Linked DNA regions of Homo sapiens: region 2 is linked to region 1. The links come from fine-mapping of genetic effects on gene expression. A gene starts in region 1. The other region holds a variant in brackets. All regions are shown on one strand. Distances are between the middles of the regions. Region 1 holds the start of ABR (ABR activator of RhoGEF and GTPase). Region 2 overlaps ABR (ABR activator of RhoGEF and GTPase).

The links. PIP is the estimated chance that this variant, and not a neighbour inherited with it, causes the effect.
Region 2: its variant is fine-mapped to the expression of ABR in whole blood (TOPMed, PIP 0.98).

The regions. Positions count from the first base shown.
Region 1 is chr17:1,177,040-1,182,039 of GRCh38, reverse strand. ABR (ABR activator of RhoGEF and GTPase) reads left to right here and starts at 2,059. Exons shown (of 23, transcript NM_021962.5): 1 at 2,059-2,373. The coding sequence starts at 2,313. ABR-AS1 (ABR antisense RNA 1) reads right to left here and starts at 413. Exons shown (of 3, transcript NR_187271.1): 1 at 112-413. RefSeq lists an enhancer at 1,252-2,018.
Region 2 is chr17:1,095,594-1,100,593 of GRCh38, reverse strand. All of the region lies in intron 3 of ABR (ABR activator of RhoGEF and GTPase), which reads left to right. Among named protein-coding and RNA genes, the nearest start is that of MIR3183, 76 kb to the right of the region's middle. The variant T/C (reference allele first, on the strand shown) is at 2,124.

The DNA of each region.
Region 1 (5,000 bases):
GCAACGCGAAGGAAAGCAACTGCCACATTTTAGCTTGGAGGATGCTGAAAATAGCTTGTTCAAGCCTTTGTAGATAAAAATGTAAAATGTACGCAAATGTATGTGACTCACGCAGAAGCATACATCCATAGCTCCCTCACAGTCAGCGCCGGATGTGGCCATCAGGAAAACCCCACAGTGTGGGGAGAGGGCCCGAGCGTTCTTGCTTGTTGTTGTTTTGAGGAGGGGACGGTGCTGCTGCCTCCTGGGCTGGTGGCTCCTGGTGGCGGCAGCTCACGCCCGTTTCCACCTTTCCCCTGGGCTGTCTTCCGAGAGTTCCAGGTGGGAAGAAGAGATGCCCTTGGCCCCTCATGGCTCCTCCGGCCTCGCGGTCCTCCGAGAGCCTGCTCGTTCCCTTCCCATGCCGAAGCTCTATTTCTGGAGCGTCTCATTGGAGATGCACGCCCCCTCCCTGCCAAGCTCCAGGTGCCTGCTTGGCCCTCCCAATCCTGTGTGCTAGTCAGGGACGGTGGGAGGGTGACAGCTGCAGGGAGGGGCGGCAAGAGACAGCGCTGGTGCCTGAGCCAGGAGGATTGGGGCGGAGGGAGCCCTGGGGACGCAGGGACGGGCTAATAATATTGAAAACCACTTCTGCTGCAGCCACCTGTAGAGGCTTCCCCACCCAGAGCATCATCCTGTGCGTCTCCCAGGGGCTCCCCAGCCTGTGATGAGTGGGTGACCCCCATCTCCCCTGGGGCAGCTGCAGAGGCCTCTGCCCAAGCAGCTTATGGGGCTTCCTCTCAGCATCCTGGGGGAGGAGCTGCTTCTCCCCTTAAGAACTAGATGTGTGTGTGTCTGTTTGGAGTGATGAGGACCGACCCCCACACCCCTCCAGCGTTCTGCGGGTGCCGACCACACTGCCCCCGGCAAAGGCCAGGCTGACTTAACCTTCCTGGTAGGCCTCTGTAGGGCTGGGCTCCCAGAAGTTTTCCCCTTAAGCTGCCTGGGGATGGGGTGGGGTGGAGACAGCTCCGGTATCTGAAATGTCACTATCTGGGGTACCGGGCCCCCTGGGTGGGCCCCACTGCTTCCCTTTCCCTGGGTTCAGGAAGGGGCTTCAGCCCCACTGCCCTGGACCCCCCTGGCCTGACTCCCCTCCTGTCCTTCCCTGCTCCAGGGTCGCTTGGCCCAAAGAGGTCTGTGGGGAAGCTGCCATGGCTCCCACAGAATCAGCCCACAGGAGACAGGCATGGGGCCCCCAATCTCTTCACTGCCCTTGGGCGAGGGGGTCTTCCTTAGAGGGAATTTCGTCTCTAAACGGTCATTTCTCAGGCCTCTTGACCCGACTTCCCACCATTTCTAGGTGATGATGCAAACACGATGGGCTTTCCAGGCCGCGGCTCGGGGTCCCCAGGAGGGGTCCTGGAGGGGAACGCGTGGAGCCCTTGGGGCTTCTCCTGGCTCCAGTTTGTCCTCCGCCCAGGAGGGGCACATGTGGGACTGTCCTGGCCCCACAGCCCCCGTGACTTCGGTCCTCCCGGGTCTCCACCCGCCCCCCTCCATGTGTGGCGGGAACGGCCGCGCTCAGAGGTCAGGGGTGTGGAAAGGGACGAGCGGGGGAAGGTTCGGGAGGAGAGAGGCGCGTCCCGCGGCGCGCAGGACGTTCACCCCGTGGGTCCCGCAGCGGGTCTGGCTGGGGAGGGGCCCGGCCGCCGCTCCCGCCCGCGAAGCCGCGCTTGGAGATCCCGGGCGGGAGGTGATGTCACCCCTGTGGGCTCCCGGGCCCCCCACGGCACCTGGTTTGCGGATCGCCAGGATCCTGCTGAGCCCGGCGCGGGGGGGACGAGGGGGACCTGGGTCTGCGCCGCCGCCTGGAGACCCCCCGAGACCCCCGCGGCCCCTCCTCGCCCAGCGCCGGAGCCCCGCTGCCCCCTTAGCCCGGCCGGGGGCGTCCTGCGGAGGGCGGAGCCTCGAGCCGATTGGTCCCTCCCCGCCCCGCCCCCGCACCAAAGCCCCGCCCCCGCACCAAAGCCCCGCCCCACCACGAAGCCCCACCCCCGCCCCGCCCCCCGCGAAGTTGCTCATCGGTTCCGGGATCCGCAGCTGGGCTCGGCGCGGCCGCTGGGGCCGGGAGGGTTCGGGAGGGTTTTGGGGGCTCCCGCCCCGCCCTCGCCCCTGCCCCGGCCGCCCCGCGCTCCTCCCGGGGACCTGGTTCCCGGCCTCCTCGCCCCTCCGCGCTCGCAACTTCGGCCTCCCCCGGCTCCCGCCCGCTCTCCCTCCTTTGTTGCGCGATGAGGGTCGGGTTTCGGATCTGACCGAGCCGCCGCCGCGGGATGGAGCCGCTCAGCCACCGGGGCCTGCCGCGCCTGTCCTGGATCGACACCCTCTACAGCAGTACGTGTGCCGGGCGGGGGCGGGACCCCAGGATCGGGATCGGGACCCCAGGATGGAGATCGGGACCCCAGGATCGGGATCGGGACCCCAAGATCGGGATCGGGACCCAGGCACCGGGCTGGTCCGGGGAGCGCGGGCGGGGGCGAGATCGGGGTCCGGATCGGGGTCGGGTTGGGAATCGGGATCGGGGTCGGGACCCAGGAGCCGGGCTGGTCTGGGGGGCGCGGGCGGGGGGTCCCCAGAGAGGATTCCTGCGGTCCGGGGGCGGGGACCGTGGGCGGACCGAGCCGAGAGCTGCGTCCCCCCTCCCACCTGTTGTGAACCCGGCCTCCGCGAGCCTCAGGGGAGGGAGGCCCTTCTGGGTGCTGCCCCCGCCCCTGGACCGGCAGCTTCTCTGTCCAGGCTGAAGCCGAAAGGCCGTTTTGGGAGCAGTCGTTGGCACCCGAGTTTGCCACCCCAGGGGCACCGGGTCATGTGTGGTTCAGGGCCCAGGGGTTCGGTGCTGGGGTGGGATCGGGTGGGAGGGGAGACGGGGGGTGCAGATATCCGCGGGGGCCGTTTGGATGCGGGAGCTGAAAATCCCGGGCTCAGCAATCTTTCCTGCCAGCCTCATCACCACCCCCACCCTCATCATCACCACCACCCTCAGAAGAAAAAAAAAACAAACCTTCTCGAGTTCTCCACCCCCTCGCTCCCAAATCTCTCTGGATCATGTGATTGCTCTTGCATGGCCCCGGGGGATGCGTAACTGATCACGGGTAATGGTGTGGGGGGGCTTGGGGCGAACCGAGAGCCGCCCCCCGCCCCCACCACCGCACCTTGCTCCTGCTCCGTTGCTAGAAAGGCACCGCCCCTTCTCCCCACCCTTCCCTGAGACACCTTTCCCGAAAGCTCTCAGGGATTAGGAAGAGGGTCCTCCTGGGCTTACATAGTGGATTTCGCCCTTCCTGGCCCACGTGAGTGGGACCCTCCCACTCTCTCAGCACATCTCCCAGGCAGGAGTTGGGGGAGGCACGTGGGGCCACGTGGAGCCTGGTTCAGCCTGATTCTAGGCACTGGATGCCATGGAACAGGAGCGTTTTCTTTCTTTTTTTTTTTTTTTGAGACGGAGTCTCGGCTCTGTCGCCCAGGCTGGAGTGCAGTGGCGCAATCTCCGCTCATTGCAACCTCTGCCTCCCGGGTTCAAGTGATTCTCCCGCCTCAGCCTCCTGAGTAGCTGGGATTACAGGTACCCACCACCACTCTCGGCTAATTTTTTGTATTTTTAGTAGAGATGGGGTTTCACCATGAGGCCAGGCTGGTCTCAAACTCCTGACCTCAGGTGATCCACCTGCCTCAGCCTCCCAAAGTGCTGGGATTACAGGCGTGAGCCAACAAGGGCATTTGTAAGGGTCATCCCAGCTAGAGTTCCTTGATAAGTCATATGGGGGGGGTGGGGGGAGTAGAGAAGGGTGATGCCTTGAGCCCCAAAGCCTTACTCTGGAGGCTGTGTGGTACCCAACATTCAACCTCTGACCTCAGCATCCCCTTGGGTCCAGGTCATTCCCTGTATCTTCTTCTCCACCCGCCTCCTCCTCCATCCATGTTCCTTCCTCTCCTCCCCCCAGGAGCTGTCCTTGTGATGGTTCATTCTGCTTTGGTTTCTCAACATCAAAGGGGCAAAGCCGGATCCCCTGGGCATAGGTCCTGTGCCAGGTGCCGCCGCTCCATCTGCTCCTTCCCCTGCAGAGGCCAGCGTCGTTGGGTGAAGGTCAGGGCCCATGGCTGTGTGGCATGTGCGTGCACGTGCGTCTGCATGAATGGGGGCACACATCTGTTCGGAGCGCAGATGCAGATCAGCTCCTGACCCGGAGGCAGGATTAGTGGCCCTCTCTTAGCTGTGTGCTTGCAAACAGCCGTCATAACAATGCCTCAGATTCACGCGTGCTTATGTTCCTGAGTGTTTCTGGCTCTTTGCAAAACCCAGTTCTTGTTTCCCTATTTCCCGAAGCCTGGAATCGTATGGAACCCTGTCTCTAGCTTTCTCTGCAGCAGAAGACTCCTCTGAGCTGATCATTTCCAAGTCTTCCATACCCCACCCTCTTCCTCCCACGCCTGGAGCAAAAAAGCAAAATTGCCTGAGGCCACCTTGAAAATTCCTGACCAGAGGAATGCCAGAAAAGGGAATTAGGCCAAGGCCTCTTAGGGGGTTCTGTTGGGCAGCCCTGATTCAGGCAGATTGGCACCTGAGCTGTCTACCCTCCTGCTGCTGCCCTGGCCTCTGGGCGGCTCCTGGGGTGGCCTGGATGGTGGGTGGGAGGGGGCACTGATGTGGCCGCAGTGTGAGGAGTCCCTGCCTCCCTCTTCGGAACAGCTTAGTGGAGAGCTGTAGCAGGAGGCTTCCCGGGGAGGTGCTGTGCAGTCATGTTTGGGCTGTTAGCCATCAACTTTCCTCTTGACAAGAGCCTAAATTAAAACAAATACCCGAGCTGTCATTTGCCTGGCAGCAAGGTTTTGTGGCTCCCAGAGGAAGTTCCTCTGCTTCTCAGGAAGCTGTTTGCTTACAAGGCTCACAGTCCTGGGGTGACAAATCTCCACAAATGCCAGATCCATCGGGAACTGTAAAGGGGGTATACCCAGGGCACAGG
Region 2 (5,000 bases), 81 kb after region 1:
GTGTTGGGTGATGTCATGCTCTGAAGCTGCTTTTGGAGTTGGAGAGGAAAGGGGACCGTACCCGTCCCTCCCTGTGGACAGAGTCTGCAGCTGGTCTGCTTCTGGCTGGGCATCGGGCAGCCCGGGTCATTGCCAGAAAGGGCCTGTGCCTCTCAGCTCCAGCTCTCAAAAGGCAGGAGAAGCACACCCGGCTTAGAGATGGCAAACACACCTGTCACCCACGACCCTGGCATAGGGCATCGTGAACCCATCATGGTGCTCTGCCTGCCTGGGCGGGGGCCGAGCGCCTTCTCCACGCTGTGCTCTGGGCAGTCATTCCCAATCAATCCAGTTAAGAAGTCTCTGCCGTCTTGTGTCCAAGTCCTTCTACCTCCCTGGGTGAGGGAACCGTTAGTGCCATCCTGAGGCCCCGTGTCAGGAAATATGAGGTGGGAGGCTGTGTTCTTTTTTTTTTTTTTTTTTTTTTTAAGACGGAGCTTTGCTCTTGTCACCCAGGCTGGAGTGCAGTGGTGCGATCTCGGCTCACTGCAACCTCTGCCTCCCGGGTTCAAGTGATTCTCCTGCCTCAGCCTCCCGAGTGGCTGGAATTGCACGTGCACGCCACCAGTCCTGGCTAATTTTTGTATTTAGTAGAGACAGGATTTTATCATGTTGGCCAGGCTGGTTTCCAACTCCTGACCTCAGGTGATCTGCCCGCCTTGGCCTCCCAAAGTGCTGGGATTACAGGCATGAGCCACTGCGCCCGGCCTGTCTGTGTTCTTTTGAGAAGCGGCACAGCTCTGAGGCATCAGGCCAAGCTCAGCCCTCGGTAACATGCCTCAGTTCCCCTCCCAGATGGAGGCATCGTTGTGAGAGTCTGATTGGGAGGGGAATATGAAAATGTTTTCGGAAGATAAAAGTACTACACAGATGTGAGGTGGTTTTGCCTTGGAAGAAAGTGCTCCTTAGATGTGTCTGGATGTTATGCAGAGTGATCGTGGCGTGTCAATCTTTCTTTTGGGTATTTTGCAGCCTGAGACATAAGGTAATTGTCAGAAAAGGGAGACGCAGAAGTGTGGATCTGTGGAAGCTCATTCTTAACAAGAATTCTAAGATGCACATTTAAGTACTTGCCATGACGTGAGGTGTTGTCACACGTCAACCCTGAGATGCTGTCAGTGTCCCAGGGGACTTGACATTTATGTTACCCAGGAATGACTGTGTAAATGTGCAGGTGCAGGCCGGGCGCCGTGGCTCAGTGCCTGTAATCCCAGCACTTTGGGAGCCCCAGGTGGGCAGATCACTTGAGGACAGGAGTTCGAGACCAGCCTGGCCAATGTGGTGAAACCTTGTCTCTGCTAGAAATGCAAAAAAAAGCCAGGCGTGGTGGTGCATACCTGTAATCCCAGTTACTCAGGAGGCTGAGGCATGAGAATTGCTTGAATCTGGGGGCGAAGGTCGTAGTGAGCTGAGAGTGCGCCACTGTACTCCAGACTGGACGACGGAAGTGAAATTCCTCAAAAAAAAAGGCTGGGTGCAGTGGCTGACACCTGTAATCCCAGCACTTTGGGAGGCCGAGGTGGGTGGATCACCTGAGGTCAGGAGTTCGAGACCAGCCTGGCCAACATGGTGAAGCCCCATCTCTACTAAAAATACAAAAAATTAGCTGGGCGTGGTGGCGGGCCCCTGTAATCCCAGCTACTCAGGAGGCTGAGGCAGGAGAATCGCTTGAACCCGGGAGGTGGAGGTTGCAGTGAGCCGAGTTTGCACCATTGCACTCCAGCCGGGGCAACAAGAGTGAAACTCTGAATGTGCAGCTGTTTTGCCACACGCCAGGCTGAGTACGTCCCATCTCTCCAGGAGTTTATCTGTGTGTACGGAGCTGTTTTCCAAGTGAGGGGCAGTGTGGCAGGTAGCTGAGGGTCCTGGTCTGGGGCCAGAGCTAGGGCAAGACTTGGCCCTGCCATTAAGAGCAGGCGTATTGCACTGTTTCTCAAACTGTGCCTCTCAGCCCATCAGTGCTTTGGGTTGTGAAATCAGTACAGTGGGTTGTGAAACCAGTACAGTGGGTTGAACCAGCATTTTTAAACCAATGAAAAAATGTCAGCATGCATCATACACGGGAAAGATAAGTGAGGGAACTT[T/C]CGGTTTGTTGTCTGTCTGTGTGCCTGTATATATATGTAATTGCCGGGCCCATGGTGTCTTACACCTGTTGTGGGTTTGAAAACTGCTGGCTTTGGCCGGGCGCCGTGTCTCAAGCCTGTAATCCCAGCACTTTGGGAGGCTGAGGTGGGCGGATCACAAGGTCAGGAGATCCAGACCATCCTTGGCCAACACGGTGAAACCCCGTCTCTACTAAAAAAGTACAAAAAAAATTAGCCGGGCGTGGTGGCGAGCACCTGTAGTCCCAGCCACTCGGGAGGCTGAGGCAGGAGAATGGCGTCAACCTGGGAGGCGGAGCTTGCAGTGAGCAGAGATTGCGCCACTGCACTCCAGCCTGGGCGACACAGTGAGACTCCATCACAAAAAAAAAAAAAAAGAAAAGAAAACTGCTGGCTTTGGGCAAGCCCTACATAAATTCCTTGAGCCTCCATTTCTGGATCTGAAGATGAGAGGGATGCCATTCTTTCTCTCTCTTTCCATGGGGTTGAGAAGATCGGGAGATGCTTTCGGGACCTCATACAGCGTTGAGTTACTTAAGACACTCAACTGTTAGTGGAAGAAAGGAGGACAGGCAAAGAGACAACCCGTCAGACATTCGTGAAACACGTCTTCCAAACCGTGAATTGCTGTCCAAAAAGGAACATAGTTGTCATTACTAACAGGGTGTGTATTTGAAAGGAGTTCAGACAGAGGATCTAGACTGCCTGGCCGTACTGGCTCCAGGCTTTCAGCAGGTGAATGAGCTATCGTGCCTCAGTTTTTCCATCTGCAAACTGGGTATACAAATAGTATGCTTTTCATGGGGTCGTTGTGAGGATTAAAGGAATTTATACACAGAGTTCTTTTTTTTTTTTTTTTTTTGAGACGGAGTCTTGCTCTGTTGCCCAGGCTGGAGTGCAGTGGCACAATCTCGGCTCATTATAACCTCCGCCTCCTGGGTTCAAGCCATTCTCCTGTGTCAGCTTCCCAAGTAGCTGAGATTACAGGCACCCACCACCACGCCCAGCTAATTTTTGTATTTTTAGTAGAGATGAGATTTCACCATGTTGGCCAGGCTGGTCTTGAACTCCTGACCTCAAGTGATCCGCCCGCCTCGGCCTCCCAAAGTGCTGGGATTACAGATGTGAGCCACTGTGTCCGGCACATAAAGCTCTTAGAACACAGCCTGAGTGTTCGTTGACACTGTTAATTTCTCTATTGCTGGGAGAGGAGACAGGTTAGGGCTTCGTGGTTTCTGCCACAACACACCCGTTCCCTGAAGGAGGGAGTGGCGCCTGTCCCCATCAGACACGGAGCCCTTAGATCCCACCTGCCACCCACGAGCCTCTTCCTCTGGGCCAAGACCAAGAGCCCCTCCCTGCTCTGCCTTTCTAACAGCTCATGCCCCAAAGGCAGAATCTGTGGGGCAGGGGCCCCCTTCCTGATATGCCTGGCGCAGGTTCCCCCCTTCCCCAGCTGTCTCCTCCCGGGGCAGGTTCCCCCCTTCCCCGGCTCTCTCCTCCCCGGGCAGGTTCCCCCCTTCCCCAGCTCTCTCCCGGGGCAGGTTTCCCCCCTTCCCCAGCTGTCTCCTCCTGGGGCAGGTTCCCCCATTCCCCAGCTCTCTCCTGGGGCAGGTTTCCCCCCTTCCCCAGCTCTCTCCTCCCGGGGCAGGTTCCCCCACTTCCCCCAGCTCTCTCCACCCGGGGCAGGTTCCCCCCTTCCCCAGCTCTCTCCTCCCGGGGCAGGTTCCCCCCCTTCCCCAGCTCTCTCCTCCCGGGGCGGGTTCCCCACCTTCCCCCAGCTCTCTCCTCCTGGGCCCCTGCTTGGCTCTTTCTTGAGCAGAGACCAGAGGGAGCAAAGGAAGAACTCGCTGGGAGGCCAGGTCTGTGGTAGGAGGGCTCAGGAAGAGGAGTAGGACCCTCCACAGCCACAGCCTCAGAAGAAAACCTCAGAGTGAAAGAATCACACCCTTCCTCCTCTCCTCCCTGAGCTGGGAACCCCTGCACCCTCCCCACCCCTCAGCTAGGAGGAAGCTAAACCTTCTGCTCTTCGGGGTGGCCTCGCAAAGGTGCCAGCTTGAAGGAGAAGAAATTCGTTCCCTCCATGCTCGCTTTCCCACTCCTGACCCCATTCCCACCGCTCTGCCCCAGCCTGTTTGCTTTCATCTGAACACTTCCTGATATGCAAAGGGCTGGGTGTGTGTACCTAAAACCATGTGCACACACGGGGCAGACGAGCCTCCACACAGAAGCCTCCGTCCTGGCCTCTGGGGTGCTTGTGGGGGTCATCTTCTGGGGCCCTCCTGCTTCCTGGTGGGCTCTGATTACAGGAAAAGCCTGGGAGCCTGGGCCGAAGTAGGGGGTGAAGGAAAAAAGATGAAGCCAACTGCATTGAAATTCTGGATCTCCTTGACACTGGGAACTGAGCTTGGGAACTGTGTCTTGCTACGCTGGGGCCACAGGGTGAGGCCACTCCCCAGAGCCCCTCCCACCGCTGGCCACGACTGGCCCTCCTGGGGTGGACTCCTGGCCACGCTGCATCGCAGGCTCTTTATCTATAAAACAGGTGAATGAGGCCTTCCTCCCTGGGCTCCAGTGACGAGTGACTCGGGTGGCATGGCAGCAAGCATGCCAGGCCTTCTGGGGCAGGAGGTGGAGGAAGTGGGTACATTTCTTTCCCTTATTTCGAAAGGCCGGTCGCTGGGGGACAGAGCTGACAAACGGCTATGTGAAGTCCCACTGGCAAGTGAGAACCGGCCCAGGCCCGTCTTCCTGAGAAGCAGCTGGTATGGGAGCCAGGGTTGAAGTCACTCACGGGTCCTCTCCGAGAACTCGAGTGGTGAAATGGAGAGCCGGGGCCTGCCCTTGTCCCTGCAGCAG